Linked DNA regions of Homo sapiens: region 2 is linked to region 1. The links come from fine-mapping of genetic effects on gene expression. A gene starts in region 1. The other region holds a variant in brackets. All regions are shown on one strand. Distances are between the middles of the regions. Region 1 holds the start of CEP68 (centrosomal protein 68). Region 2 overlaps RAB1A (RAB1A, member RAS oncogene family).

The links. PIP is the estimated chance that this variant, and not a neighbour inherited with it, causes the effect.
Region 2: its variant is the best candidate, but not a certain one, in a credible set for the expression of CEP68 in blood mononuclear cells (TOPMed, PIP 0.77).

The regions. Positions count from the first base shown.
Region 1 is chr2:65,049,349-65,064,939 of GRCh38, forward strand. CEP68 (centrosomal protein 68) reads left to right here and starts at 7,068. Exons shown (of 7, transcript NM_015147.3): 1 at 7,068-7,180. It overlaps LINC02576 (long intergenic non-protein coding RNA 2576), which reads left to right. Exons shown (of 3, transcript NR_183398.1): 3 at 3,032-4,394. RefSeq lists silencers at 1,121-1,293, 7,001-7,110, 7,191-7,530, 8,161-8,210, 8,221-8,300 and enhancers at 6,661-6,900, 11,833-12,334.
Region 2 is chr2:65,101,865-65,117,455 of GRCh38, forward strand. It overlaps RAB1A (RAB1A, member RAS oncogene family), which reads right to left. Exons shown (of 6, transcript NM_004161.5): 2 at 2,870-2,942. Among named protein-coding and RNA genes, the nearest start is that of RAB1A, 20 kb to the right of the region's middle. The variant C/T (reference allele first, on the strand shown) is at 6,295.

The sequences.
Region 1 (15,591 bases):
AGGCTGTGTCAGGTTTTATAAGCATAGGGTAATGAGGCATGATCTGACTGGATCTTGCAATGAGGTAATGCCAAGAGGCATGATCTCACTGGATCCTGCTAATGAGTGATGCCAGAGCTCAATCTGATTGCATCGTAGATCCAGCCATGCAGTGTCAACTTCCTAATTCAGTCCCTGCTCCTCTGAGCACTTAGGTTCCCCCCTGTGGCTACACACTTGGTTCACCTGGGCCTGCTCAGGTTACATGACCTGAAGCTCCATTAGCAACTGAAAAACAACTCATAACTTTTGTTACATAAAAGTTGAACCAAACTGGTCTGGTGCAGCTACATAATATCCCATATTCTGGAGATGATTACTTCCTAATGGTGTTCATCTTATACCAGTATCTACTGTATTTCCTGTAAGCAGGAAGTTAGGTTAAATATTTTTGGAAAGAATTCTACTTAGGAGGCACATGTCTGGTAGTCCCATTATTGGTGATGTTTGATCACTTGGTTATGGTGGTAATTGTTTGATCTTTCCATTATAAATGCATAATTTCCCTTTTGTAATTAGTAAATAATCAGTGGGGCAATACTTGGGAGTCTGTGTGAATACCTTGTTCCCAGAAACTTTTTTCCCAATAGTTTTAGCATTCATTAGTAATCCTTATCTTGGTTAATTGGTTAATTATTACATTTGAGTTTCCAAAAGGGTAATTGTCTAATCTAACATTCCTCTTACAGTTATCACTCTGTAAAGATGAGCTTTTCTTTTTCTCTCTTTGTTTTCTTATGTTTTGTTTGAGATTGACTATGGACCATGATTTTCAAAAAATTATTATATTATAATCAATTATAATTATAGATTACAAATATTTATTTTACATTAACATTTAATACATTTATTATATATTTATATATTATGTTAAACATATTTATTATATAGTACTATATATTAATATACTTGTTAATATATTTAATATATAAACATATTTTAAATATAATCATATATTAAGCATATATACTTAACTATATACCTAATTATGTTGAAGTTAATTATACATTTAAGTATATAATTATCTCAAATATACTTAAATACAATTATACTTAAAATGTAATTAAATCGTAATTAACATTATTTTTTATTTGCAGATTGTCCCAAATTTGGCCAATGAAAAAGTCCTTCAAGGCCAGGTGTGGTAGCTCATGCCTATAATCCCAGCATTTTGGGAGGCTGAGGCAGATGGATCACCAGAGGTCAAGAGTTTGAGACCAGCCTGGCCAACATGGTGAAACCCTGTCTCTACTGGAAAAAAAAAAAAAAAATTAGCCGGGTGTGGTGGCAAGTACCTATAACTCAGCAGGCTGAGGCAGGAGAATCACTTGAACCTGGGAGGCAGAGGTTGCAGTCAGCTGAGATCATGCCACTGCACTCCAGCCTGGGAGAAAGAGCAAGACTCTGTTTCAAAAAAAAAAAAAGAAAAAAAAAAAAAAGTCCTTCAAGTTGACTTCTATATCTTTTTTTTAAAAAAAACAGCTTTATTGAGATCTAATTTCCCTACCATACAGTTCACCCATTTACAGTACACAGTTCTATGGTTTTAGTTTATTCAGAGTTGTGCAAGCATCATCACAGTCAATTTTAGAACAATCAAATTTAGTTCATTACCCCTAAAAGAAACTGTTACCCATTAGTGGTCACTTCCTATTCCCCTCAACTCTTGCAGCCCTAGGTAACTGCTAATCCACCGTCTCCATAGATTTGCCTATTCTGGATGTGTCATACGAATGGAATCATCTATGTGGTCTTCTGTGACTGGCTTCTTTCACTTGGCATGTTTTCATGGTTCACCCACATTGTATAAAAATGTCCGTCTACATTCTGTAGCATTGATTTTACTGCCATTTTAACATTCCATATTATGGATATACTGTATTTTACTTACCCATTCATCAGTTGATGGGTATTTGGGTTGTTTCCACTTTTTGGCTCTTGTGAATAATGCTGCAATAACCAATCATGTACAAGTTTTTGTATGAACATACGTTTTAATTTACCTTGCATACATATATAGGAGTGGAACTGCTGGGTCATATGGTAACTTTATGCTTAATCTTTTGAGAAACTTCCAGACTGCTTTCCAAAGGGGCTGTATTATTTGACATACTTTTTCTTTTTCCTTTCTTTTGAGACAAGGTCTCACCCTGTTGCTCAAGCTGGAGTGCAGTGGCACGATCACAGCTCACTGCAACCTTGACCTGCTGGGCCCTAGCGATCCTACCATGTTAGCCTCCCAAAGAGTTGGAATTACAGGTGTGAGCCACTGTGCCCAGCCTCCATTTGACATTCTTACCAGCCATGTATGAGAGTTCCAGTTTCTCCACATCTTCATCAACACGTTACCTTTTTTATTATAGCCATCCTAGTGGCTATAATTGTGGTTTTGATTTGCATTTCACTGAGGCTAATGATACTGACTCAGTGTTTCTCAAGGTACCTTTGGTCCCAAAAATTCATGTTTTATTTTATATCCAGAAAACTATCTTCAGTTATAGCTTTCTTTCATTGTTATGTTTCTTTTCTTTGGAGACTTCAATGATGCATATGTTAACTTCTGTCTATCTTCTATATCTCTCACTTTTTTTCTAATATTTTTCCTTCTTTTCCAAATTTGTTTTGGGTTCTCTTGGCTGTTTTAAATTTATTTTCAATGTTCCTTCTTGACTTTTAAGGCTAACCTATTTTCCCGTGGACACAATGTAATTTAGTTTCCATATCTCAAGATTATTTTGGCTTTTTCTTCTACTTCTTTCCTGAATTTCATCAGTTCTCATTTTATAGTTTTCTGCTTTGTGTCCATTTCTATTTTGAGTTTTTTAATGTCTGATTTTTGGTATTCTTTATAGCTACAGCTGCTTACTAAATGATATTTAATTCATATGAAGAATACTGTTAGTTTTCCTCTGCTTTTTGGCTGTTGGATGGAATTGTGGTTGGTGGAAAGAATTTTCATTAGTTAAAATGGTTTTTAATTTTTTTCTTGTAGTTACTTTATATGGATGTTGGTTGCTGTTCTGTTTAGTTCAAAATACCTCGGATCTGACCAGGTGTGGTGGCTCACACCTGTAATCCCAGCAATTTGGGAGACCAAGGCAGGTGGATCAACTGAGGTCAGGAGTTCAAGAACAGCCTTACCAACATGATGAAACCATCTCTTCTAAAAATACAAAAATTACCCAGGCGTGGTGGTGGGTGACTCTAATCCCAGGTACTTGGGAGGCTGAAGCAGGAGAATCCCTTGAACCTGGGAGGTGGAGGTTGCAGTGGGCCAAGATCGTGCTACTGCACTCCAGCCCCAGCTGGGTGACAGAGTGAGACACTGTCTCAAAAACAAAACAAAAACAAAAACAAAACAACCTGTCAATATCACTGGGGAAAGAGTTTGTCAAACTCCAAGGCAATTTTCAGTGAGAATGACACTAAGTTTCAGACTTCAGGGCAATAGGAATGATGTCAGACTTCAATTACATTCCCCATGAAGAACCAGACAGCTAGAGTGTCGCTATGTACTTTTAAAAGATGACTGAGGATGGAGACAAGTGAGTTGGCAGACAGTGGCAACCTCTGGAAGACAGAATCTTCTCTGCTGGTTCCCAGGCTGCTGCTCCGAAAGTCCCAAAACACGCACCTGGCCTCTCCTGCATTCCCACTGGCTGCACCTTGCTCCTGCCCAGAATGAAATCTGGCTCCTGGCCACCAAGCAAGAAGCCACCAGCTGACCAAAATTTTTAATTAAAAAAAAAAAATTAGTTCAAGTGCCCACTGGGAGACAAAACTCTGAACCAATGACCAATAGTTTCTTCCACAGCAGAATATCATTGCTGGTAACAATGGGTGTGGTATTTCTCAAATCATACCTAATGATTCTTCTCAAAATTTATACTTTGCTTTTCCTCAAACCAGCTGGTTTAGATATTTTAGTACAATGCTTTCACCAGAACCTACAACAATGGTTCCTATTAACTGAGAACTGAAATTGATGTGGTCTCCTCATGCCACAGGTCACATGTTGTTTGGTGACTGATTTTGACTCTCAGGAGGAAGTGGGGTTGCTGTTACACCACGGAGGCAAGAGGAGCAGTAATAGAACACAGGAGATCTCCTGAGGCACCTCATCACTCTCATGCCAGGGCACAAGTTGATGGCAATGTACTGTACCACCTACAGACAAACTACAGACAACCTACCTACAGGCAACCTCCTCAAGAACAAAAGCTTGCTTAACCCAACCAGGCAAAGAATCCTGGCCAGCTGAGGGGTTGCGTGAAGGAAAGAGGGACCTGGAATGGTTAGCGGAGAAGGAAAATTGTAAATGACAATAAAGCTTCATTACCAGTTACAAAAATGAAGATCGTAACCTCTAACAGTATTTCCCTTCTTGCTGTATTATATATAAATGGAGTTTTTAGCTATTGTCCTTTTCTTTCATTTCCTTTCTTTTCACAATTGTATCTAAAGTCTATCAGTGATGCTTAACTTTACAATTTAGTCTACACATTACAACGATGGGATGGGATGATGATGAAACTGAAAGGAAGAATGGAACATCACCTACAGAAGTTAGACTTGGGCCAAATACAGTAAATGAGGAGATTTTGAGATGCCCTGCTTTGGGGAAGGGATAAGTAAATTTTGTTATAGGAGAGATGCTCGCATTTTGTTGGATGGCAGCATTTTCATTTACCTTTGAAAGCACTTCTGTGAATGTTGGGCAGCCTAAGAGACGGACTATAGTGAAGCAACTTTTGGCAACCCAGCGTCTCATTCTTCTTATTTGAGGGGAGGCCCCCACACACTGAGTCTTGGTATGAGGCTAGGCCTCCCAGACTAGAAGCCACAGTAGAAACCAGAACTCTCTTTGCCTATTGGCAATCAGAACACAGGCACATAACCTAGACTAGGCCAAGTAAATGGTCCTTCCCAAAACTTGAATCTTAAGTGAGAAGAGTTGAAAAATAATTCATGTCACCACCAAAGGAGCTGGTACGCACCCTAATCAGAGTACCAAAGCAGGATGGCTTAGCTGGTTCCTAACATTTCCAGGCCTGGTTCTCCAGCATTGCTGCTGCAAGGAGTATAACTACAGACAGCTCTAGGCCTACTTTTCCCGCGCTCAGAAACACCAAAAGAAAGAGCCTCTTTCTCCCAGCCTCATTCTCTAAAATCCCCGACAAGGGCTCAGATCATCTCAGGTTTGGTCATGTGCGCATCCCTGGGGAAATCTGAAAACAAGAGGAGGGAGACTACAGCTGGTCAGGCCTGGGTTCCACACCTCCCCTTCTCCACACCCATCCTGCCTTGGGAGACCGGAGAAGTGCGGTGCTAAAGAACCATCTGACCCAGCGGACTGCAGACAATTCCCAAAGGAAAGTTTTCCCGTCAGGCAAAAACAAAAGCTGCTCACAACACAAAATTACAGAACATCAGAACCAAAAGGAACCTTGGGACTCCTTCATCCTATCCCCTCTCTTTATAGATGAGGAAACCATACAGGATATGTACGCCTGTTTGGACTTTGTACAGTTCTCTGTCCAGCAGGGGTGACTTGGCTGTGGGATTAGGTGACTCCACTGGAGGTCTTCTGTGTATAGAAAAGATCAAGGGTCACAAACACAAATGCCTTCAGGTAGGCAGCAAATGTGTGAAGGCTGGCTGTTACTTAATGGACCAGTGGTGGTGGTGGGATTCAAATTCTTATTAAAAAACAAAAGCAAACAAACAAAGAAAAGCTATGCGATGCCCAAATAAAACCATCTGTGGGCTAGCTGCTGCTGTTGTCCAAAGTTTGTGGCCCCTGGGTTAGACAAAACCTCTGAGCTGTCCTGACAGGTCTGGGAAAACCAAACAAGTCCTTGTCTCCTAAACTACCTGGGACTCAAGAGCTCTGTAGGAAAAAATTTGTACCCTGCACCCAGCTGGGGTTGACATTTACAGACGCCTGTTTTATGAACTGGGGAGATATTCAGTTGAAGCCAGATTGCTGAAAGTGCTGCTGAGAGAAAATCATCAGAAGGGAGGGCCTCTTCCCCACGCCACCCTGGTGGTAGTTCCTCTATGCCTCCGGATTCTGCTAAGCAGTAAAAGCTAAAGGGCAGTGTCATTAAGCTCCTAGGGGATGGGATGCAGTGGCTCACACCTGTAATTCCAGCACTTTGGGAGGCCGAGGCGGGAGGATCGTCTGAGTCCAGGAGTTCAAGCCCAGCCTGGGCAACACAGCAAGACCCCATCTTTGCAAAATAGATAGATAGATAGAGATGTATGAAAGTTACTAGGTCCCATGCTGGCAGGGGAGAGAGTGAGCACCCTGGCCTCCCACAAGCTGCCTCCCACTTCCCTCCGACTCCATCACCGATTTCCCATCAGAGCAGGCTGCTCAGAGTGGCTAAGTAGCTACCAGTTCATTTTCCACACCCTTCCCATTCTCCACGAGCCAGAGCTCCACCTCCCCCCAGAAGCTGTCTTCAACCACCCGGCCTGGGGAGCTCCCCTCAGCACTGGCTCCCCGCCCCGCCTCGCAGCACCTGTTCGGGCCTCGGTCGCGCCGCCGGGTCTTGCAGACGCGAATGTAAACAGAAACACAGTGAAAGGCGTTCGGAGAGCCTCGTGACTGCGGCACGGCGGCGAGCCGGGAACATCAGTGCGTCCAGAGCAAAATGAACGAATGTACGCATGACTCCTGGAGCGACCTTCACGAGGGAAAGCGCGCCCCCCGGCACCCACCCCTAAGCGCCCCAAAATGACCAGCCTTTACACAACCCAGCTCGCAGGCGAAGCTGAGGTCGGAGCTCCAAAAGCGAGGGAGGACAGCCGCTGAAGAAGTCCCGGCTTCCCATAGGCCAGGACGAAGTAGGGGGCGGGCTCATCTTGCAGGAGCGTCCACGTATTGGTGGAGCCGCGGACTTAGAGCTGCGATTCGCTGCGCGAAATTGCCGAAAGCCCTCCCGCGGAGGGAGAAGGGGCGGGAAGAAGGGCGTGGTCAGCGCGGCCGAAGGGCGTGGTTGGCGCTCGGTCCTGCCCTGCGCGTTTTGGGCTGCGGTTGGAGGGCCGCAGTTGCAGTCAGGGTCCGCCAGCTCGGGGCCAGCGCATGGGGCTGCTGAGACCGCTCCGGACGTGCGAAGCGTTCGCGGTGCGGTAGGTAGGCAGTGTCCCGCGTGCGGGTGCTGGTGTCGGGGGTGCCGCGGCGCTGGGGGCGGTGGCCCGGGCTAGATCCGCGCGCGCGCCCGGCCCCCTCCCCCGCGTCTCTTCGGTGCCTGCGGGGCCCTTGCGGTGCGGGCCGTCTGGCCTCGCGTCCCCGCCGGCAAGGGCACAAAGGCTCCCTGGGGGGCGGGGGCGCCTCGTGCCTTCGCCTCCATCTTGCGAGCGGAACGGCGTGTGCTGTGGCGGCCGAGGGGTCGGGGCCGAGGCGGGCGGCTGGGCTTGGGAATGCCCGGGCGCGGCGAGGGAGTGCGCGAGTCCGCGCATCTGGCGGCCGAGCAGCTGCGCCGCTGGTCGGCCTGGGCCCCGGGGGAGGTCACTTTCCCTCAGGCCTCTCCCGGGCGTGGGCTGTTTACCCAGCTCCCCAGTCGGGGCTAATGCAGCTCGGGCCTTTCCCCCTGGAAAGATGGAGACCAGTGATGTCTTCTTATCGCCGCGCCCAGATGCGGAGAGAAAAAATCAAGATGTCTCATTTTTTTTGCCTCGGAGGGCTACCCTTTCTAACTGTCATCACTAGAACAGTTCTCAGCAGCCTGGGGACGAATGTCCAAAACCTGTTCCAGGCCCTTGATGATTAGTAGGTTGGGTTTAGTGTATTGTTTGTAACAAAAATGAGCGGAAGCCTGCCAGGGCAGATTGGACCTCACTGGGAATTCATCAGGACCACGAAGGGAGGTAGCGTTTGTAAATAATCTAACAGTTCTCAGATCTAGGGTATGAAGAGTGTTGTGTTAAAGTGTGTAACAAAGGTTGTTGGGTCAGTTTGCCTTGGGTTTAGTTGAAAGATCTAGAAGTCACCACTTTTTACTTTGTTCCCTCCATTCCCCTTTCCCACCCTCTGTTGAGTCAATTCTGGCCCACTTAGAAAACAACAACAACAAAAAACCCAAGGAATTCAGTTTAACCTCTTTTGCGCAAAGCTTTTTAAAGCACTTCCCCACCCTGCGACTGATAACTCCTCCCTTTTTTGGGCTACCTTCTGCAGCCTCTGTTTTTACTCATCACACTGTATTGTGGTTTCCCCAGCCCCTAGCACAATGCTTGGAACATAAAAGGCACTCAATGATGGAAGGAAGCCAAAAGGAAACAAAATCAGCGTGGTAGTCTAAAGGTGACACAACAGAAACATTTATTTAACTTCTTGAGCGAGTTATTCTTACAGGTTAGGAAGGCAGCTAAGCTCAGGCTCTCTAAGTCAAACAGGCTTTAGCTCTGCCATGTTACTAACTCTGATTAATTTTTTTTTTAATGGTGATGGGGGTCTTGCCATGTTGTCCAGGCTGGTCTTGAACTCCTGGGCTCAAGCAATCCTCCTGCCTCTGCCTCCCAGAGTGCTGGGATTACAGGCGTGTCATTAAGTTATTTAACTTCTCCGTGCCTTGGTTTCCTCATCCTTAAAAATGGGAATAATAGTAGTACCTGTGTGGTGAGTTATTAGGATTAAATAAGATATTGATGTATAGTGCCTAATATAGTTCCTGGCACAAAGAAAATGATCAGTAGCTGTTAGCTGTTAGCAGTCGTTAGGAGAAAAATAAATGGATACTTGAATACACTCACCAATATGAAATATCTGTATAGTACTTGACCCTTCAGGATCTCTCTGTTTTTTGGTCCTTATCCGATCCCTTTTTTTGAGACAGGGTCTCACTCCATCACCCAGGCTGGAGTACAGTGGCATGATCTCAACTCACTGTGGCCTCAACCTCCTGGGGTCGAGTCCCTCTCACCTCAGCCTCCCAAGTAGCTGGGATCACAGGTGCACATCACCAGGCCCAGCTAATTTTCTATTTTGTTGTAGAGATGACGTCTCTCTATATTGCCCAGGCTTGTCTTGAACTCCTGGGCTCAAGCGATTACTGGCATGAGCCACGGTGCCTGACACCTTATCCGATGGCTGATTTTTTTCCTTTTTTTTTTTTTTTTTTTTTTTTTTGAGAGGGAGTTTCACTCTTCTTGGCCAGGCTGGAGTGCAATGGCACAGTCTCAGCTCACTGCAACCTCTTCCTCCCGGGTTCAAGCAATTCTCCTACCTCAGCCTTCCGAGTAGCTAGGATTACAGGCACCCACCACCGTGTTCCGCTAATTTTTGTATTTTTGGTAGAGACAGGGTTTCGCCATGTTGTCCAGCCTGGTCTTGAACTCCTGACCTCAGGTGATCCACCCACTTCAGCCTCCCAAAGTGCTGGGATTACAGGCGTGAGCCACCATGCCCAGCCTGATGTCTGATTTTTAAACATCCCTTTAGCCTTTCCTGATTCTCTTTCCACAGTGAAAGTATTCCGTAGAAGATTATCTGTTTATGTGTCTGGAGTCTCACCACCAACTAAAGATTGATTTGGTGCCAAATAGCAATTTGGCCAAGAGTTACAGTAGTACTTGATACATTCTTAACGGGGTCTGTTATCTGAAATGGTCATGTAAAATCAGAGGAGCTAAATAGATGGGGGCCTCATGTGGCTGACAAAAAATCTTTACCTGGTTGATCCATCCAGAAAGAAGCAGAGCTTATGGAGGTGGACTCTCCTTATAACTTAAATCTGTTCTCATGAAGAAACTGTCTCCTATCTTTAATGTTGTTCACCAACATCATGAAAAGCCCAAGAAATGTTCCTGTTGGCTTTAGACCTGTCTGCCAGCTAGAAGTGTCAGATACAACTCCTGGGGGACACTGCGTCACTTCCAGGTTTTCCTGCACCACTTTCTGGTTACAGGAAACAGGTTAAGTTGCACATTTCCTTGTAGCTGTAAGCTCCCTTGGCATATTGGTTTCTCTTAAATTATTTCCAGTTTCCAAAACAAATACCTTTCCCCTCCTCACTTGTAACTGGCACAGGAGAAATTCAGGTCTGTGATTCTGTTTTTAACATAGCCATCATGAATCTCAAATTCTTTCTAGGGAATACTATTATTTCTGGGGACTCCCTTTCAGCTGTGGTATTCTATAATTAGCCATTAAAAACCTGCCACAAGGTGTAAGCCTTTTCTAATGTCCTGTTGCAAAGGCCTTGAAGACAAGGGCCATAAATTTTCTTCTTGTGTGTGGCTGGCATATAGGCACCCAAGGAATGGTTGTAAAGCTATTTTAGTTGTTCCTTCTCAGGGTGCTGAAACAGCCTTACTTACCAACCCAGTGCTTCTGAAACATTTTTCTTACCAAGTCATCTGGAGATATTGCTAAAATGCAGGTTCTCATTCCAAGGTTCTGGGGCAGGACCTGAGAATCTGCATTCCCAACGAGCTCTGAGGTGATGCAGATGCTGCTGGTGCTGGATCACACTTTGATAGTGAAGTGCTAACCCTAGTATCTACATTTGCTTTTTAGAAGTATTGGGTAAATGGGTTTTATTTTCTTATGGTATTGGAATAAAATCTTGGGTTTAGGAGCTTTTTTCTATTTTTTGTTTTAACAATTTCTCTATCTTGTTAAAAAAAAACTATTTGAGGAATTGTTCCAACATACTTTGATGTAATAAGATTTTTAATAACAGCAATTGAGGCACATGGAGTGAAAAAAAAATAGGAGAAAGTCAAGGAAGAAATTAGCACAAAAAGGCAAGTACCTCTCTGTCCTATGCCTTTTACTCAGGTGAGATTGTGTATTTGGCCCTGAGCTTTGTAGCAGCCAAAGCAAAGAGGGAAATTTTTTTTTATCAGTTTTGCCAGTACTTATAAAGTGAAAATGTCTGCTGAATGGAGACAGCTGTTTCTGTTATTGAGGCCAGAGAATTCTCCCATGGCTTCTCCAAAGAGAATGCTATGGTACAGTGAGTGGCAATCTTAATAGTATCTCTTGAGAGCGGTAAGATTCTTCTCAGTCTTCATACGTGCAGCCTGATGACCTCACAAAAAAGTGTCAGGGCCGGGCACAGTGGCCCATACCTGTAATCCCAGCATTTTGGGAGGCCAAGGAGGGAGGATTGCTTGAGTTCAGGAGTTTGAGACCAGTCCGGGCAACATAGCGAGGCCTCGTCTCTTAAAAAAAAATAAATGAATAAAAATAAAAACTGTCAGTATAGTAAAAGCAGTGGTCTGTGGAAATGCACCCATGTGGTCCAGGTACAGCCTCTTCTGACAGTGACTTTTGTTATAAGGAAGGTGTTTTTCTGCTTTGCTCTTTAGTGAGAAAAAAGGTGCTGTTGATTGACATATTCAGCCCTCAGCATCCTTGTACATTGAGCTTTGTTACACATGGACACTCTGCTGACTGCTGAGGAGGCCAGAGAGCTTGGGGTTGAGGGGAGGAGTAGCTGGGACTCAGTCAAGCTCCTTGTAGATGTGACTTACATCTCTTTAAAGGCTATCTAGGTTGGGCGCAGTGGCTCACGCCTGTAATCCCAGCACTTTGGGAGGCCGAGGCAGGAGGATCACATAAGGTCAGGAGTTCGAGACCAGCCTGGCCAACATGGTGAAACCCTGTCTCTACTAAAAATACTAAAATTAGCCAGGCGTGGTGGTGGGTGCCTGTAATCCCAACTACTCAGGAGACTGAGGCAGGAGAATTGCTTGAACCTGGGAGGTGGAGGTTGCAGTGAGATAGCACCACTGCACTCCAGCCTGGGCAACACAGCAAGACTCCATCTCAAATTAAAAAAAAGAAAAAAAAGGGCTACCTAAAGACCTTGCCTTGTAAATGAGAACATTGGCCTTGCTGGGAGGCTGTCTGGTAGCCCTGGTCAGTCAGCCAACAGATAAGTGAGTGAGAAGGCGAGGGAACAGACAGCCAAGCAGCCTAGCCCACAGCCCTCCCTACCGCATTGATCTACAGGGACCCACTGGCTCCTCCTAGGGCCCTGGGAGATTCCTTCTGTTCTTTTGACTCTAAGCAAAACTTCCAGAAGCAGCCCTGGGGAGAAAAGAAGGGGCTCCCGGTGCCCAAGGATCCTGGGGATGGCCTCGGCCCATGGCCAAGCCACAGCAGACACAGTCTACCCTCCGTAGCTTTGAGTCTTTTCTTCATTTTCACTTTACTTTGATTTTACCTGCAGAGAAGGGGGACAAAGTGCTCAGAGTGACCTATCCCACAGTGAAAGACAGGGCTGGTGTGGGGGACTGTGGGGCTCCAGGGGGACTTCCCAGCAGGGCAGGAGCAGGTGGAGCAGCAGTTGCTCTTTGCTGCTGGCCTCCCAGTCTCAGGCCTCCAGCCACAGTTTTCCTGGCACCCACGCCACCCTGAAGCAGGCCTCAGTCACCTTTTGTGACTGGCCCCTTTGTTGGCTTCCCCTACGTGTCTTTACCTCCTTTCATGTGACCTCCCATGCCTGCTTGGCCTCTGCCTTTAAGCTCCTTTATTCCATAAATCTAGTTCCCCCAGAGTTCTTCCAGCAAGCTCTGCTGGGTCCTGCCTTCTGTTTCCTTGTGGACAGTTTCATGTTATTGGAGAAAGAGCAGCATGGAAAGCCTCTTTGGTTCTCTGGGCAGGTTCTGCCACTGTGTGTTCATGGCAATTATCACTTATTCCTGTGGCCTCCTGTGAAAACAGGTTTGGAGGTTTTGGCCCTGAACTCATAGGGCTTGCTCAGTCTAGCAACACCTGGCCTCTGTGGCTGGCACAGGTGACTGTGCGCTCAGGTAAGAGACGAGCCCTTGCCAGAACAGAGCTCCCTGGGCAAAGTTGGTATAAATGAGATTGTTTCAAAGGGAGCTCACGACTTAAAGAGTCCTGGCCAGGTGCGGTGACTCCCGCCTGTAAGCCCAACACTTTGGGAGGCCGAGGCAGGCAGGTCACTTGAGGCCGGGAGTTCGAGAGCAGCCTGGCCAACATGGTTAAACCCCGTATCTACTAAAAATAGAAAAATTAGCGGGGATGGTGGCACGCACCTGGAGTCCCAGCTGCTTTGGAGGCTAAGCCAGGAGAATTGCTTGAACCCGGGAGGCAGAGGTTGCAATGAGCCAAGATCTCGCTGCTGTACTCCAACCTGGGCGACAGAGTGAGACTCCATCTCAAAAAAAAAAAAAAAAAAAGAGGCGGGGCGTGATGGCTTATATCTGTAAACCCAGCACTCTGGGAGGCCTAGGCGGGTGGATTGCCTAAGCTCAGGAGTTCGAGACCAGCCTTGGCAACATATCGAAACCCTGTCCCTACTAAAAATACAAAAAATGAACCACGCATGGTGGTGCACGCCTGTAATCCCAGCCATTTGGGAGGCTGAGGCACAAGAATCCCTTGAACCCGGGAGGCAGAGGTTGTAGTGAGCCAAGATCGTGCCACTGCACTCCAGCCTGGGCGACAGAGCGAGACTCTATCTCAAAAAAAAAAATAGTCCTAGGGGAGGTCCTTTTTTGTTGAAAGGAGGATTGCTCTCTAGTTGATCATTCATCTGTTTGAGGGGTTTAGTCAAGAGCAAGAGCAGAGCCTCACCCCTCCCACAGTTCCCAGTCCTCCTCTCTCCATCTTGGACAGAAGTGAGTGGGAGGAAGCCCGGCAGCTGTGACAGGAGTGTCCTAGGGTGATGCAGCATATACGAAGAAGGGTCAGATGTCCAGGCTTAGAGTTTGTGTTACCACATGCATGATTTGTGGGCGTATTTTTACTGTAGGGCAAGAGTAAGCCAAGCCTACATCACTCCTAATTATATCTGGTGGATCATACAGCCTCTTCAGGTTCTGGAAACTAACAGAATTTTAATAGCAAAGTCCAGATGGTCCCTAGAATATCCTGAAGCTTATGTGGCTTGTCTCTTGGTTTGACAAAGGACAAGGCAGTTCTGTTGTGTACAGACCTTTCTCAGAGGGTAAGGTTGAGTTCACTGTCTGTGCTCTGATGTCTCCTGTCATTCAGTCCAACCTCCTGGCACTTCCTTCATTTGGGAGGCGACGGGGGCCTGTGCCCCATCATGGAGCTGCTAGCCTCCAGGAGCACTGTAAAATGTGTGATCCGAGAACGGGAGGCCCCACATTAGGAAATTGTTTAAAGCTGATGACCTGGGAGACTGTGTGGGTCCAAGACAACAAGCGCTATTCACCAGTCTGAGAAGGATAAGCTGCCTCTTATTAGAAGTGCAACCTGAATCTATCGCCCCCACCCCTACCCCAGAGGGTTAGGAGGAATGATGTGTAAAATCTCGGATCTATGGAAATGAAGACCAGACCTTCATGCAGTGTTACAGATGGCCACCGGCCAGATGCAGACAGGGTTGAGTCCTAGGAATCCAAAACTTGTGCGTTTATCATAGCCTGGGCCAGTGTTTTCTTCGGCATGATTGCTGTTTTAAAAGAGGTTTGTCTTCAGTCATTACTTCAGGAAGTTTTCCCCTATTATTTTTATCCCAACTGATTTCTCCCTTTCGTTGCATTTTGGTAACATTTCATAGACAGTTTTGAATGCATTATAGATTGGTTTTTATTTTCTTTCACATGTGTCTGTCTTGGTTCTCATAATAAACTTGTATAATAGGGGGGAAAAGCATGATTTGTCAGGCAGATTAATAAGATTATGAAGGGACTGTTTATCCAGTCTAAGAAAGTAACTACCTTCATTCCGTCTTTACAGACGTACAATTTCCTTGAAAATCATTGAATTTCAGATCTTCTTACCTGGTTGCTGAAGGGACTTTGGCCACACTACTAACCTAGTTTAGGTTTGTGTGTATCCTTGTAAGTTACTTAGGGATGTCAACTGAATAGTTTGTAATAGCTCACCACTCCCTATCTCTCCAGGCTAAATAGATACCTTCTTTTTTGAATAATGAGGTCCAGACAAGATGAATAAAAAGTACATGATCAAAACAAAGGGATAATTTGTTTGCACCCCTCCCTTGCCCCATCATCATCTTATTCCAGCACCTTGTCTCAAGATCGCACCCTTTAGTGAGAGGTGTGGGGAATCTCTAGCCATTGAGAGAGTTTTTAGAAATCGAGCAAGAGGCCGGGCGTGGTGGCTCACACCTGTAATCCCAGCACTTTGGGAGGCCGAGGCAGGCAGATCACGATGTCAGGAGATCGAGACCATCCTGGCTAATGTGGTGAAACCCCATCTCTACTAAAAATACAAAAAATTAGCTGGGTGCGGTGGTGGGCGCCTGTAGTCCCAGCTACTCGGGAGGCTGAGGCAGGAGAATGGCGTGAACCCGGGAGGTGGAGCTTGCAGTGAGCTGAGATAGCGCCACTGCAGTCCAGCCTTGGCGAAAAAGCGAGACTCCGTCTCAAAAAAAAAAAAAAAAAGAAATGGAGCAAGAAGTAGCAATTGGGAATTATGGGCTATACCCAGCCTTCACCCTGGTTTTTCTAGCTCACGGGCGCAGCTGTTCCCCTACTTATGAAAACAAAACTTGCCTGTAAACGTCTTCATGTGCAGTTTCTTAATGAGCCACAAGGTGAGGATGTGGCTCCGTAAGATCTCTGTCTCAGCAA
Region 2 (15,591 bases), 53 kb after region 1:
TCAGCCTCCCAAGTAGCTGGGATTACAGGCATGCGCCACCACATCCGGCTAATTTTGTATTTTTAGTAGAGACAGGGTTTCTCCATGTTGGTCAGGCTGGTCTCGAACTCCTGACCTCAGATGATCCGCCAGCCTCAGCCTCTAAATGCTGGGATTACAGGCGTGACCCACCACACCCAGCCAGCAATTTGTATTACTTCTTTTTTCAACTGACTGCTCATGTATTTGCCACTATTTCCATTAGGAGAAATATTCTTTTCTTGTTGATGTGCAAATGTGCTTTATATGTTGAGAATACCAATCCTCATATATATATATTTGCTATTGCCATTAGTTTTCTAACATTTTTGTGCCTGTGATAAATTAATTTTAATAGTCAAATTTAGCAGTGATTTCTTGCTTTTTTCTTATTTTAAAAAATACCTTCACAAACCAAGATTAAAGAGCCACCTATGTTTTATTCTAGTACTCATGGTTTTATTTTTAACTGTTATATAAAAAGAATTATACATTATTTAATATTTTTTAAATAACCTTCATTAATATCGGCACTCATCAGAAAAGTCATATGTATTTAGGATACTGTCAAGTGGTAAACTCTAAGTTTTTTCAAATTCTAATTTTCCATGATAAACTTAAATTTTATTTCAGCCAACAAATGCTTGCAGCTACTTCCCTTGAAATGACTATCACAGTTCATCTGAGAAAATCTGTCAAATAGCCAATTCTGTTCTAATCTGTCTGTTAGCTGTTCTTTCAAGTTAAAAAAAAAAAAAAAAATGTCCAGGTGCAGTAGTTCACGCCTGTAATCCCAGCACTTTGGGAGGCTGAGACAAGCGGATCACGAAGTCAGGAGTTCGAGACCAGCCTGGCCAACATGGTGAAACCCCATCTCTACTAAAAATACAAAAACTAGCTGGGCTTGGTGGCAGGTGCCTATAATCCCAGCTACTTGGGAGGCTACGGCAGAAGAATTGCTTGAACCCGAGAAGCGGAGGTTGCAGTGAGCCGAGATTGTGCCACTGCACTCCAGCCTGGGCAACAAAGCAATATTCCATCTCAAAAAAAAAAAAAGAAATGGTGTTCCACAGAAAAAAATAAAGCAGTTAGCTCAGCTTACAACTCAAAAAACTACAAATGCTTTTCTTTTCTCCAAAATAACCAACACACTAGCCAGTATGCAGTAAAAAGTGCTTTCTCCAGCACTTTGGGAGGCTGAGGCACATGCATCGCTTGAGCTCAGAAGTTTGAGAGCAGCCTGTGCAACACAGTGAGACCTTGTCACTACAAAAAAATACAAAAATCAGCCAGGCATGATGGCGCATCCACTTGGGAGGTCCCAGCCACTTGGGAGGCTGAAGTGGGAGAACAGCTTGAGCCTGGGAGCCAGACGCCACTGCACTCTAGCCTTGGCAACACAGCCAGAATCTGTCTCAAAAAAAAAAAAAAACATTGTTTTATGTGAACTTCCCATTTCTTCACAAATATTTTTAAAGGAATACTCATGGATCAACATTTTTCAAAAATTAATCATTTTAACTGTTTTGTCAAGGACAATCTTCAATAAAAATGGCACGGCTTGTTTTTGTTCCTGTGAGGGCACAGAGGTAAAGAATGCCATCACCATGAGTACAATTTGGAGCTTAGCGCTGCCTTGATGTGTACCAAGCCAGCAGCAATTTTACCCACATGCTTTTGTACCAGAGCCAATGTCATCACTGAAAAACGCAAACATCTTTTATATTAGTATTATTACCAAGTAAATATTTCCTTACAAATACTAACATCTTAGTATTATTAGGATATTTTGACCTCATGGGCTACCTGAGAGGGTCTTGGTAACCCCCAGGAGTCTTTGGTCCATGCTCTGAGAAACAATGATCTCTAGAAGGGAAACATGCTAATTTGTTTTTTTATTTTTTTTCTTTTTTTTTTGAGACAGTCTTGCTCTGTTGCCAGGCTGGAGTGCAGTGGCACCATCTCAGCTCACTGCAACCTCCGCCTCCTGGGTTCAAGCGATTCTCCTGCCTCAGCCTCCCGAGTAGCTGGGACTACAGGCGTGTGGCACCACACCCAGCTAATTTTTTGTATTTTTAGTAGAGACGGGGTTTCACCGTGTTAGCCAGGATGGTCTCGATCTCTTGACCTTGTGATCCGCCCGTCTCGGCCTCCCAAAGTGCTGGGATTACAGGCGTGAGCCACCGCACCTGGCCAGGAAACATGCTAAATTTAAAGGTAGTTGATAAAGACTATGAAGGACACTGTGGATTCTGTTAAGTCAAAAGTCCTTTATCTGTCAGCTTCAGCATTTAGAACTATGCCATTGGCCAACGAAGTTTGTCCAAGACCCTACTTTTTCTTTTATTAACTTTTTTTTTCAGAGACAGAGTCATGCTATGTTGTCCAGGTTGGTCTCAAAACTCCTAGACTCAAGTGATCCTTCCACCCTCAGCACCCTGAGTAGCTGAGACTGCAGGCATGATCCACTGCGTCACCTGGCTCTGCTTTTTCTTCTTATTCTACTAAAGTTTAATTTAAAGATTTATTTTCATCAAGTCGCTTTCAACACAGGCCACCAACTACCCCTTTAACTTGCTGCCTATATTGGAACTGCTGTTTGACTCTGACCAAAAGTATTAGACATTCTGACTTTATAACCATACTTCACTGAATTTCTTTTAAGAGCAACAATATTTTTCTATTTAACAGTCCAAGATACCACTGGGGATGTATATTTGGAGTCTTTAAATATATAAATTCTGGAAGAATTAACTTATTCTGAATAAAACTGTTTAATTTTATCTACCTAGAAAACATACATAGCATTAATTGTACCATTAATTGTAAAGACATTTCAATTTCAACTTACTGCAAACCTAAGAAGAAGGCAAGACTTTCCAACCCCTGAGTCGCCAATCAGAAGTAACTTGAATAAATAATCACTGCAAAAAGAAAAAGAAAATGATGTTAATAAAAAGCACACTGCATTGCTATAAGCTATACAAAAACAAAAACACAGCTACAAATAACAACTCACTGTGAAGACTACATCTCCTATAAAGCCCATGCATGGCTTAAGCCAAAACTGCAAACAGCCACAGCCCTTCTGACAGATCACTAAACATGATAAAATTATGTAAAAAGTAGGCAATGCCACCTATGATCTCTAACATCAGTGAACTTCCACTTAAAAAGAAAGAAGGAAAAGAAAAATAAGTGATACGCACTCTTGGACTGCCCAAGATACTTAAAACATTCTAAATAAATCCCACTCCTCTATAGTATTAGAATACAGAAAGGTAACTTTTCATTGTTTTTGCCCATGAAATATTAGTCTCTCCTTCAAATTCTAAGATCAGGCCAGGCGCAGTGGCTCACACCTGTAATCCCAACACTTTGGGAGGCTGAGGCAGGCAGTTCACTTGAGGTCAGGAGTTCAAGACCAGCCTGACCAACATGGTGAAACCCCGTCTCCATTAAAAATACAAAAATTAGCTGGGCATGGTTGCGCATGCCTGTAATCCCAGCTACCTGGTAGGCTGAGGCAGAAGAATTGCTTGAACCCAGGAGGCAGAGGTTGCAGTGAGCCGAGATCGTGCCACTGCATTCCAGCTCCAGCCTGGGCAATAAGAACGAAACTCTGTCTCAAAAAAAAAAAAAAAAAAAAAAAAAAAAATTCCAAGATCAAATAATTTCATAGCACTCCTCCAATGAAGGGGTTCTCACGATCCTTCTCTAGCATCCAGCTTGAATTCTCCCGTCAAAACAATGTTCATATAACTTCTGAAAGCCCATATTATAAACTAGAAATGTGATAAATTCACAGGCTGTTTATCCAAGTGCAAAACTTGACTAACACTCTACACTTGTATTAAAGCATTTTTCAGAACCATTGAAAACCAAGCTTTTTTTTTTTGAGACGGAGTCTTGCTCTGTCACCCAGGCTGGAGTGCAGTGGCGCGATCTCGGCTCACTGCAACCTCCAACTCCCTGGTTCAAGTGATTCTCCTGCCTCAGCCTCCCGAGTAGCTGGGATTATAGGCATGCGCCACCACGCCCAGCTAATTTTTGTATTTTTAGTAGACACGGGTTTCACCGTGTTGGCCAGGATGGTCTCGATCTCCTGACCTCATGATCTGCCCGCCTCAGCCTCCCAAAGTGCTGGAATTACAGGTGTGAGCCACCGCACCCAGTGATAAAACAAGGCTCTCTTTATGTATCTCTAACATTGCCAGGCCTAACTCAAAAACTATCCCCAGAGATTCCTTCATGGAACTAAGACAACATTATTATTCACCCACAGTCTCCAAGGAAATCCCTCATAGATCCTTCCCAACTCAGACACCAGTTCTATGCATTCTTTTAAGCAATTTCAAAAGGACAAAAACCTTAGAATTTATATATCGTTTTTGTAGAAGATATACATGATTTTGTATTTTGTCCTTTTTGATTTACTTTCAAAAATATGCTAAAGTGAAAACCACGTCACAATTTAGATTAAAATTATTTACATGTAAACAAGACATAAAACTTATTTTTTTTGTTTTAATTGCACTGCCAAAGAAGAGAGGATATAAAACTTCTATAAGCGATTATCTTTGTGAATATTCAACTATTACGTAGGTTTACATAATGATATGCATTACTTAAAACATTGTTTGGGTTTTAGCAAATTACCATATTATACTTATTGTTATACTTATTGTCTTTAATTATATATGAGGAAAATAATTTTTTAAAAATCCCAAGTGCCAGTCAGCAGCAAAATAGAAGTCAGAGAAGGAAACAAAAATCTTCTAAACAAGTAAATCAGAAGAGGGGACTGAAGCATAGAATGAACTAGACATCCTTTCCAGTTTGAGATTTTAAAATTTTTAAAAAGATCGCTATTGTAGAATATTATCCTTAATAAATGATTGATACCTAATACCAACAATTTGTACTTGGCAGTTCAGCTGGCTGACTTTACTACTATTGATAAGGTTCCTTCTTAATTAAACCAAATATTCTTCTTTCTTTTTTTGAGACAGAGTCTTGCTCTGTTGCTCAAGCTAATTTTTGTACTTTTAGTAGAGACGGGATTTAGCCATGTTGGTCGGGCTGGTCTCCAACTCCTGATCTCAAGTGATCCACCCGCCTTGGCCTCCCAAAGTGCTGGGACTACAGGTGTGAGCCACCATGCCTGGCCCCAAATATTCTTTTTTTGTTTGTTTGTTTTGAGACAAGAGTCTCGCTCTGTTGCCCAGGCTGGAGTGCAGTGAAGCAATCTCAGGTCACTGCAGCCTCCACCTCCCAGGTTCAAGCAATTCTCCTGCCTCAGCCTCTGAAGTAGCTGGGATTACAGACATGTGCTAACACACCCAGCTAATTTTTGTATTTCTAGTAAAGACGGGAGTTTCATCATGTTGGAGGCTGTTCTCAAGCTCCTAACCTCAGGTAATCTGCTCACCTCAGCCTCCCAAAGTGCTGGGAGTACAGGCATGAGCCACCGTGCCTGGCCCCAAATACTCTTAAGAATACTGAACACTGAACATTAACAATGAGTATATGTTAAGAATTTACCTGTATGAAGAAAGGAAGACTATCACAGCATTGATACTACCATAGTAGGTTGGTTTTTTGGGGGGTGTTGTTTTTGTTGTTAGACAGTCTCACTCTGTCGCCCAGGCTGGAGTGCAGTGGCTCGATCTCGATTCACTGCAACCTCTGCCTCCAGGTGTTCAAGTGATTCTCAGGCCTCAGCCTCCTGAGTAGCTGGGACTTAGTAGGGAGGTTTTTAAACAGAAGTTTCAACACAACAACTGGACTCAATGTACCAATCTCCCTGAACTCCACGCCAGGCATCCAGTAAACACTCAAAAACATTCCCTGAATTTGCTGTACTGGAGCCAGTTGAAGTAAAGGACTGTACTGGGCCTCAGATGTTGCCTGAAGTATCACCTTAAAGATCAACAACCCAGGCTAGGCGTAGTGGCTCATGCCTGAGGTCAGAAGTTCCAGACCACCCTGGCCAATACGGTGAAACCCCATCTCTACTAAAAATACTAAAATTAGCTAGGCATGGTGGTGGGCAGCTTTAATCTCAGCTACTTGAGAGGCTGACCCATGAGAATTGCTTGAACTCAGGAGGTGGAGGTTGCAGTGAGCTCAGATCACACCACTGCACTCCAGCACGGGCAAAAGAGGAGTCTCAAAAAAAAAAAAAAAATCAACAACTCTATTTCAGAGCAACCATAAAGCTTTAAAAAACATGAACGGGGGCCAGGTGCAGTGGATCACCTGAGTTCAGGAGTT[C/T]GAGACCAGCCAGGCCAACACGATGAAACCCCGCCTCTACTAAAAATACAAAAATTAGCTGGGTGTGGTGGCAGGCGCCTGTAATCCCAGCTACTCGGGAGGCTGAGGCAGGAGAATTGCTTGAACCCAGGAGGCAGAGGTTGCAGTGCGCTGACATCACACACTCCAGCCTAGGCAACAAGAGCAAAACTCCATCTCAAAAAAAAAAAAAAAGAAAGAAAGAAACATGAAGGTTTCCTAATTGCACTACAAGTTACATTATGGTTTCAAGAAATTAATAGTCAATTCTTTTTAAATTACCTTTTTCAACCACTACATTTTTTTAAGTTTTACAAATATAACACTCTTATTTTAACGCATTATGGCTGGGCACAGTGGCTCAGTGAGCCTGTAATCCCAGCACTCTGGGAGGCCGAAGCAGGTGGATCACCTGAGGTTGGGAGTTCGAGACCAGCCTGGCCAACATGGTGCAATCCCGTCTTTACTAAAAATACAAAATTAGCCAGGCATGGTAGCGCATGCCTGTAATCCCAGCTACTTGGGAGGCAAAGGCAGGAGAATCACTTGAACCCGAGAGGCGGAGGTTGCAGTGAGTCAAGATCACATCATTGTACTTCAGCCTGGACAATAAGGGCGAAACTCCATCTCAAAAAAACAAATAAAAAAATTATTTATGAGTTTCTAATAATTTAAGGCTTAAATTAAAGCCATTATAAATAATATGAAGAATTGAGTGCTCTGTATAAGACAATCTTTGCAAAAGACTACTGGTTCTCTCGCAAACCATTTGTTTACTAACATGACAACAGTCACATGAGAAAGGCAAATAAAATCAAACCCACAAACTTCCCCACCTCCCCTTATCAAAGACACACACTTGAATAGCGTGATCAGTGACACGTTAACTTGCATTGGGACATTTTAAATTACCTACTACAGAAGTAGTTTATTTCTCAACTGTAAATATACTGAATATTCGTGAGAATTCATTGTTCTGAGTTTGCTTTAAAACGTTTTTATAATTTACAAAACACCACACAGTAAAAATGTTGATAGAAAATATACAAATATAAAATTACAGAGCACAAGGACAGAATTTTGGTACAAAGAGCCAAGACTAATTTAGCAAATGGTAAGACTTTAAATGTATTTATTCTTCATTCCTCATGAATTTGGATCACTAAGTTTTTATCCTACAATAATATAATTTTGACTTAAGTGAAAAAAACTAAATTATGCTAGTTTAGAAACCAATAAAAATTTGGCTGGGCGCGGTGGCTCACACCTGTAATCCCAGCACTTTGGGAGGCCAAGGTGGGTGGATTACCTGAGGTCAGGAGTTCAAGACCAGCCTGACCAACATGGTGAAACCCCGTCTCTACTAAAAAAAAAAATACAAAAATTAGCTCAGCATGGTGGCAGATGCCTGTAATCCCAGCTACTTGGGTGGCTAAGGCAGGAGAATCACTTGGACCCAGGAGGCGGAGGTTGCAGTGAGGAGAGACTGCGCCATTGCACTCCAGCCTGGGCAACAGAGCGAGACTCCATCTCAAAAAAAAAAAAAGAGAAAGGAAAAAAAAGAAACCTATGAAGATTTACAATTGTCACCCTCGTAAATTATTCTAGTAAATCCTATCCACTGTTTCCAGTTCAGAACTTCCTCTAGCTTTTTGTAGTTCTAATCTACTATAACCTCATATTTTCTACCCTCGAGAAGTTTGGGGTCTGTGTTTCTCCACCCTTACGTTTGACATAGCTATCTGTGGGTGTGGAAGGTAAGCTGACTTACTCATCTACGTATACAAGGATCTAGCACTGTGCCTTTTACAAAGCATGTGCTAAGAGATCAGAGAACATTTTAGTTTTACATTTTTAATCAGGCCTCTTTCGTTGTGAGATACAGCTACAGAAAATTTGTGCCATCCTTGATTAACATTTTTGGCCAAAATATTAGGGGGAAAAAATGATGACAGCACCTCATGTTAAAAGGATACAGGAGCCGGTCGGGCTTGGTGGCTCACGCCTGTAATCCCAGCACTTTTGGAGGCTGAGGCGGGCAGATCACGAGGTCAGGAGATCGAGACCATCCTGGCTAACATGGTGAAACCCTGTCTCTACTAAAAATACAAAAAATTAGACGGGTGTGGCGGCACACGCCTGTAGTCCCAGCTACTCAGGAGGCTGAGGCAGGAGAATCGCTTGAACCCGGGAGGTGGAGGTTGCAGTGAGAAGAGATGGCGCTACTGCACTCCAGCCTGGGCAGCAGAGCGAGACCGTCTCAAAAAAAAAAAAAAAAATGGCCAAGCCAGAACAATTTGAGGCACAAAATAAATTAAGTACGTATTAGATTATAACTCACAAAATAAATACTCATGAATTCATAGCAGTATAAATGATTATAAATGGGAGGGAAGAGACAAGTCAATAACACATGCTGAAGAAATGAGAAAAACAGAAAATGACCAGTAGCACTACATTAATAATTGCTGCAATGCTGGGTGTGGTGGCTCACACCTGTAATTCCCACCTACTTGTAAGGCTGAGGTAGAAGGATCACATGAGGCCAGAAGTTCAAGACCAGCCTGAGCAACATAGCAAAACCCCCATCTCTAAAAATATTTTTTTTAATTAGCTGGGTGTGGTGGTCTATGCCTGTAGTCCCAGCTACTTGAGAGGCTGAGGCAGAAGGATCACTTGAGCCCAGGAGTTTGAGGCTGCAGTGAGCTATGAACTCACTACTGCATTCCAACTTGGGCAACAGAGTGAGATCCCATCTCTTAAAAAAAAAATTAAGGAAAAAAGAAAAAGAAAAAATAATTGCTGCAAGGAAGATTTACTGGATAAATGCTAAATTAATGGATAAAACTAAGGAGAAACAGGATATCTGCATGACCTCACCAAAGTATATCCCTCAAAATATTGGCCAGGCATGGTGGCTCACACCTGTAATCCTAGCGCTTTGGGAGGCCAACGCGGGTGGATTGCCTGAGCTCAGGAGCACGAGACCAGCCTGGGCAACACGGTGAAACTGCTTCTCTACTAAAATACAAAAAATTAGCCAGGCGTGGTGGCACATGCCTGTAGTTTCAGTTACTTGGGAGACTGAGGCAGGACAGTCACTTGAACCCCGGAGGTGGAGGCTGCATTGAGCCAAGATCATGCCATTGCACTCCAGCCTAGGCGACAGAACGAGACACCATCTCAAAAAAAAAAAAAAAATACATCAGACAAATACAAACTGACAGACAACTGACGGACATTCTATAAAATACCTATCAGCACTCTTCAAACTTGTCAAGATAACGAAAAAGAAGGAAAGACTGAGAAACTGTCACAGATTGAAGGTGGCTAACATGGCCTACAACTAAATACAATATGGTATACTGAATTAGATCCTAGAACAGAAAAAGAACATTAGTGAAAAAATTAGAGAAACCAGATTAAGTCTATAGTTAACACTGTACCAATGTTTATTTCTTAATTTGGACAAATGTACCATGTATGTAAGATGTTACTATTAGGAAAAGCGGAAAGAAGGGTATACAAGAACTCCACATTGATTTCACAATTTCAGTAAATCTAAATTTAGTTCAAAATAAAAAGGGTTTTAGAAAAGGTTTTTATAAAGGTTAAAAAATTATGAGGAGGCCAGGCGAGGCTCAAGCCTATAATCCCAGCACTTTGGGAGGCCCAGGCAGGTGGATCACCTGAGGTCAGGAGTTTGAGACCAGCCTGGCCAACATGGTGAAACCCTGCCTCTACTAAAAATACAAAATTAGCCGGGCGTGGTGGCACGCACCTGTAGTCTCAGCTACTCAGGAAGCTGAGGCAGGAGAATCGCTTGAACCTGGGAGGTAGAGGTTGCAGTAAGCTGATATCGCACCACTGCACTTTAGCCTGGGCAACAGAACAAGACTCCATCTCAAAAAAAACAAAACAAAACAAAACGAAAAATGACAAACAATCACTTCAAAAATGCTAGCTCATGATTTTTTTTTTTTTTTTGAGACAGAGTCTTGCTCTGTTGCCTAGGCTGGAGTGCAATGGCATTATCTCAGCTCACTGCAACCTCCACCTCCCCCGGGTTCAAGCGATTCACCTGCCTCAGCCTCCCTAGTAGCTGGGATTACAGGTGTGTGCCACCATGCCCAGCTAATTTTTGTATTTTAGTAGAGATGGGGTTTCACCATGTTGGCCTGGCTGGTCTCAAACTCCTGACCTCAAGTGATCCACCTGCCTCAGCCTCCCAAAGTGTTGGGATTATAGGCATAAGCCACCGTACCCAGCCACTTATGATATTTTTAAACAATATGAGAGACATTTCATGTTTTCTCAAGTTAAATCTAATCACAAATTGGGCTGGGTTTGTAAAATAAAGCTGCTTTTGAGGTACAAGTATTTCTATTAGTGAAAAATTCTGTTGAACTGCTTGAATTTTATAATACTACGAGCAGATATTTTATTTTAATTTAAAAAGTTCACTCTATGAGAAAGCTAAAAACAGTTAAGGTAAGAATGGCATAGAATAAGCCTGGACAGAAAGGAGGAGGCTGAGAGAAATTAACAGTAGGCTTTAACAACTGGATGGTGGGCATGAAATACAGCAACAAGAGAAAAATTATTTTTGCTATCAGTTTTTCCTATAAGTCAACTTTTGGTCTACTTTCGCAATATTGGAGGTTCCAACAATAAAACAAAAGCAATAAGGTACAGTAAGGACGAGTTTTATTCTACTCAGTTTGCATGAAGTTAAATGACTGATGACAGGGCCAGGCACGGCAGCTTGTGCCTATTAATTCCAGCACTTTGGGAGGCTGAGGCTGGAGGATCATTTGAGCCCAAGAGTTCCAGACCAGCCTGGGCAACATAGAGAGAAGCCCCATCTCTTAAAGAAAATTAAGGAAAAAATGATCAATGACAGGATATGTGGATTTTTGCTAACATTAGAATTGTCTTTTGCTTAACAGATGGGGAAAAATTGAACTATACATTCAATTACAAATCAGCAAGAGGGCCCACCCCAGAACCCTTGTTTCAAATTTCAGTTTAGAGTTCAATTTCCATTATTTGTTTGCGTGCAAAAATGGCATCGGTACATATATGTACATTTATGATCTGAACATAGTCTTGATGTCCGCTGATGTATGTACCTACGCCATTTTTGTATGCAAGCACTACCATTTTCTATGCCTTTAAAAAAAGCCTGGTGCAGTGGTGCACACCTGTAGTCCCAGCTACTTAGAAGGCTGAGGCAGGAGGGTAACTTGAGCCCAGGAGTTCAAGGTTGCAGTGAGCTAGGAATAGAACCATTGCACTCACTCTAGCCTAGGCAACAAGAGTGAGACCCCCATCTCTAAATAAATAAAATAAAAAATATAAAAATTAAAAGTCACTACTGTGAAAGCATGGAACAATATTCTTTAAATAAAAAGTTAGAAAAACAGATTTTCAGTTCAAAATTCTATTTAGGTAAAATTCTTTTCTTGCCTAAAGTACAAAGTAGAGGATGAATCAGCTTGTTTCTGAATCTAAAATGCTACTGGAAATTCTAAAACCTCCAAAATAACACTGTTATGTGAAAGGAATATAGAATTTTTTAAAGTATAACCTCATTTTTGTTTTTTAAAAAATCTTTTGAGGGGCTGGGCATGGCTAGCTCATCTCAGCACTCTGAGAGGCTGGAGCAGGAAGTCTAAACTGTAGGACTATAATGGATTGACGGTTTCTTCTTTATACCTTTTTAACAACCTGCAGTAAGCTTGTATGACTTTTATAACCAGAAATAAAAAATGTTATTTGAAAGGAGGAGAAAAGCGTTTTATTCAATGACTTAACACCCTTACAAATATGTTCAGCATATGTCAGCACAGCACACCTATCATAACACAAATTACTTCTAAGTAGGTAGAGTAGGTCAGGTTGTAAACAGACAGCAATGGCATACTCCCAATACAGCCACAAGTATATGAAGTTAAATTCTGGGTTAAATGAGAATATACTGTTTTCTTCTTTCATGAAATAAAATTTAGATTCTCAGACAAGGTTCACATGTCAATGAACACTTTACAAAAGAAAGCTGATTGACATTAACCCAACTTTCAACATTCCACCCTTTGGAAACATGCTAAGGAAGAAAAAAAATCTAACAGCAGAGAACTATAGTGTATAATTGTATTTGTACAAACAGAAATACAAATACAAATTTATAAAAACAAATATAAATTTTATAATATCAGCTGTAAGTACCTTAGAAAAGGCCTATTTATAAAGTTCAATGGAAACTAAATTCATTCTCTTTCATCTAGAATGGATTCATTTGCATGACAGGAATTCTTATGGTTTAAATGTATCCTCCAAAGTTCCTGTGTTAGATACTTAATCCCCAATACAACAGTTTAAGGGGGGCCGGGCGCGGTGGCTCACGCCTGTAATCCCAGCACTTTGGGAGGCCGAGGCGGGTGGATCATGAGGTCAGGAGATCGAGACCATCCTGGCTAACAAGGTGAAACCCCGTCTCTACTAAAAAAATACAAAAAATTAGCCGGGCGCGGTGGCGGGCGCCTGTAGTCCCAGCTACTCGGGAGGCTGAGGCAGGAGAATGGCGTGAACCCGGGAGGCGGAGCTTGCAGTGAGCCGAGATTGCGCCACTGCAGTCCGCAGTCCGGCCTGGGCAACAGAGCGAGACTCCGTCTCAAAAAAAAAAAACAAAAAAAAAACCAGTTTAAGGATGCAGAGCCTAATGAGAGGTGATTAGGTCACAAGGGCTCTGCCCTCATGAATGGATTAATGCATTCTCTCAAAAGTGGGTTAGCTATCTCTGGAGTCACTCTGTTATAAAAGTGAGTTCAAGCCCCTTCTTGCTCTCTGTCTTGACATACTCACTTGCCTTTCCACCTTCCACCATATGATAACACAGCACAAAGGGCAGAACCATGCTCTTGAAGTTCCCAGCCTCCAGAACCACAGGCCAAATAAACTTCTACTGTTTATAAATTACCCAGTCTGTGCTATTCTGTTATAGCAGCAGAAAACAGACTAAGACAGAAATGTTATTTTATCTTCTTCTAAATGTCTTATTTGAAAATAGCATAAAACTAAGCTCACATATCAAATTTAAAACAAAATCCTGATATACTGGCCAATAAATCTTAAGGGAAAATTATCAAGACTACTAAACTACATACTATTTTAATAACCTTTAGGGGGTGAAACAATAAAAACTTCAGCTGCAATGATCATGATTGACATAAATTTTTCTTCTTCACTCACTTTAAGTATGCTCCACAGAACACAATTCAAAACCAACCTTCAGGTTGAAACACTTACTCCTTGCTGGAGACAAGAGGTAAGAACTTTTAGTTAGTTCATATGCTTCTGTACTGTGAATTTTACAGTGAGCACATATTATTCCTATAATTTAAAAAAAATTAAACAATCCTTCAGCTGTGGACAAAGCAGCCTGTCAGTCAATATAAATGATCAATGTGACCAATTACCAGAAATCTGAGAGGGCAATGGTCTTTTCTCCAAATTTAAAGAAATAGTCAAGCAATTAAAAAAAAATGCTTCCATTCAGATGAACCATCTTAAAAAAAATTGTTCCCATAATCAACCACTAAAATTACATGTTTTTCTTTGGTATTTAGAGACAATAGATTAATTTTCCAGGTTCCAATATAGTTCTGTTTAGAACAGTATTCTAAAAATTCAAAGCTGGCCAGGTGCAGTGGCTCATGCCTGTAATCCCAGCATTTTGGGAGGCCGAGGTGGGTGGATCACTTGAGGCCAAGAGTTCAAAACCAGCCTGGCCAACAAGGTAAAACCCTATCTCTACTAAAAATACAAAAATTAGTTGGGCGTGGTGGTGGGCACCTCCAGTCCCAGCTACTAAGGAGGCTGAGGCAGGAAGAATTGCTTGAACCTGTGAGGCAGAGGTTGCAGTGAGCTGATATCACGCCACTGCACTCCAGCCTGGACAACAGAGTGAGACTCCATCTCAAAAAAATAAATAAATTAAATAAAATAAAAATAAAAATTCAAAGCTGAAATGCTGAAAGAAATTTGGGTAGTACCAAAGGAAGCAGCAAGTGACACAAGATGACAAAAGGGTAGACAGTCTTTAATATGCATACAAGTATTTGCTGAAAAACACACCAAGAACGGGGTGTCAACGTTCTCTACCTCCTTACCTCTCAAAGCCTGCATGGGTTTGGACCTGGAAGACCCGTACTTGAATTGAGGCTCTACTGCATACCAGCCATAGGATCTTGGTGCAAGTTATTCACTTACCACCATGAGCCTCAATTTCCTCATCTATAAGGTTCAATTAGCACCCACTACCACCCAATTAGGCTTCTTGTCAGGATTACAAATCACGTTTCTGAAACATCTAGCACATACTGTCTGGCACATACAGAAGCACAGTAAGTGGCCATTGTTATTTCTCCTTCCTCCCAGCAAAACCATGAGATAACAATACAAATTTCAGAGGTTCAGACAAAAACTTCAAAATTATTTATCCAAGGCTTCTGTTCAGATTATCAGTGACAAAGGAACACAGGAGTTTACATATATAATCTAAAGTTAAAGTTTAAAAATTGCCAACTAATAGTTGTAAGTACTATGATCATACAAGTCACAACTCCCAAAGCCTAGCAATGCATAAAACAGTAACATGCTCTGCAGCAAGTGTGCCCTCTACAGCAAGAGAAGGCAGCCCTCTGCTTCATTTGCTTTTCATAGAAAGACATCCATGACCTCTAAGTCTCCAAGTTTAAATATATAGCAAGACAGAAAAACTGAGAATGGATACAATTAATTTCAACCCAAGATGTGAAGGGTAAAGTTAAAAGCCCATTTATAAATAATACATACCTCACAAACCCTTCTTAAATCCTTCCCCCACCCCCACCCACCACCACCACAGAGACAGGGTCTTGCTATGTCACCCAGGCTGAAGTGCAGTGGTGCAATCACAGTTCACGGCAGCCTCCAACTTCTGGGCTCAAGCAACCCTCTTGCCTCAGCCTCTTGAGTAGCTGGGACCACAAGCACACCAACCACACCTGGCTATTTTTTATTTTTAGTTTTTTAGAGACAGGGTCTTCATATGCTGCCCAGGTCTCAAACTCCTGGCCTCAGGCAATCCTCCCACCTCAGCCTCCCAAGTGGTTGGGACTACAGGTGCACACTACCATGCCCAGCTAATTTTTAAATTTTTTGCAGAAAGGGGATCTTACTAGGTTGCTCAGGCTGATTTGAACTCTTGGCCTTAAGCAATCCTCCTGCCTCAGCCTC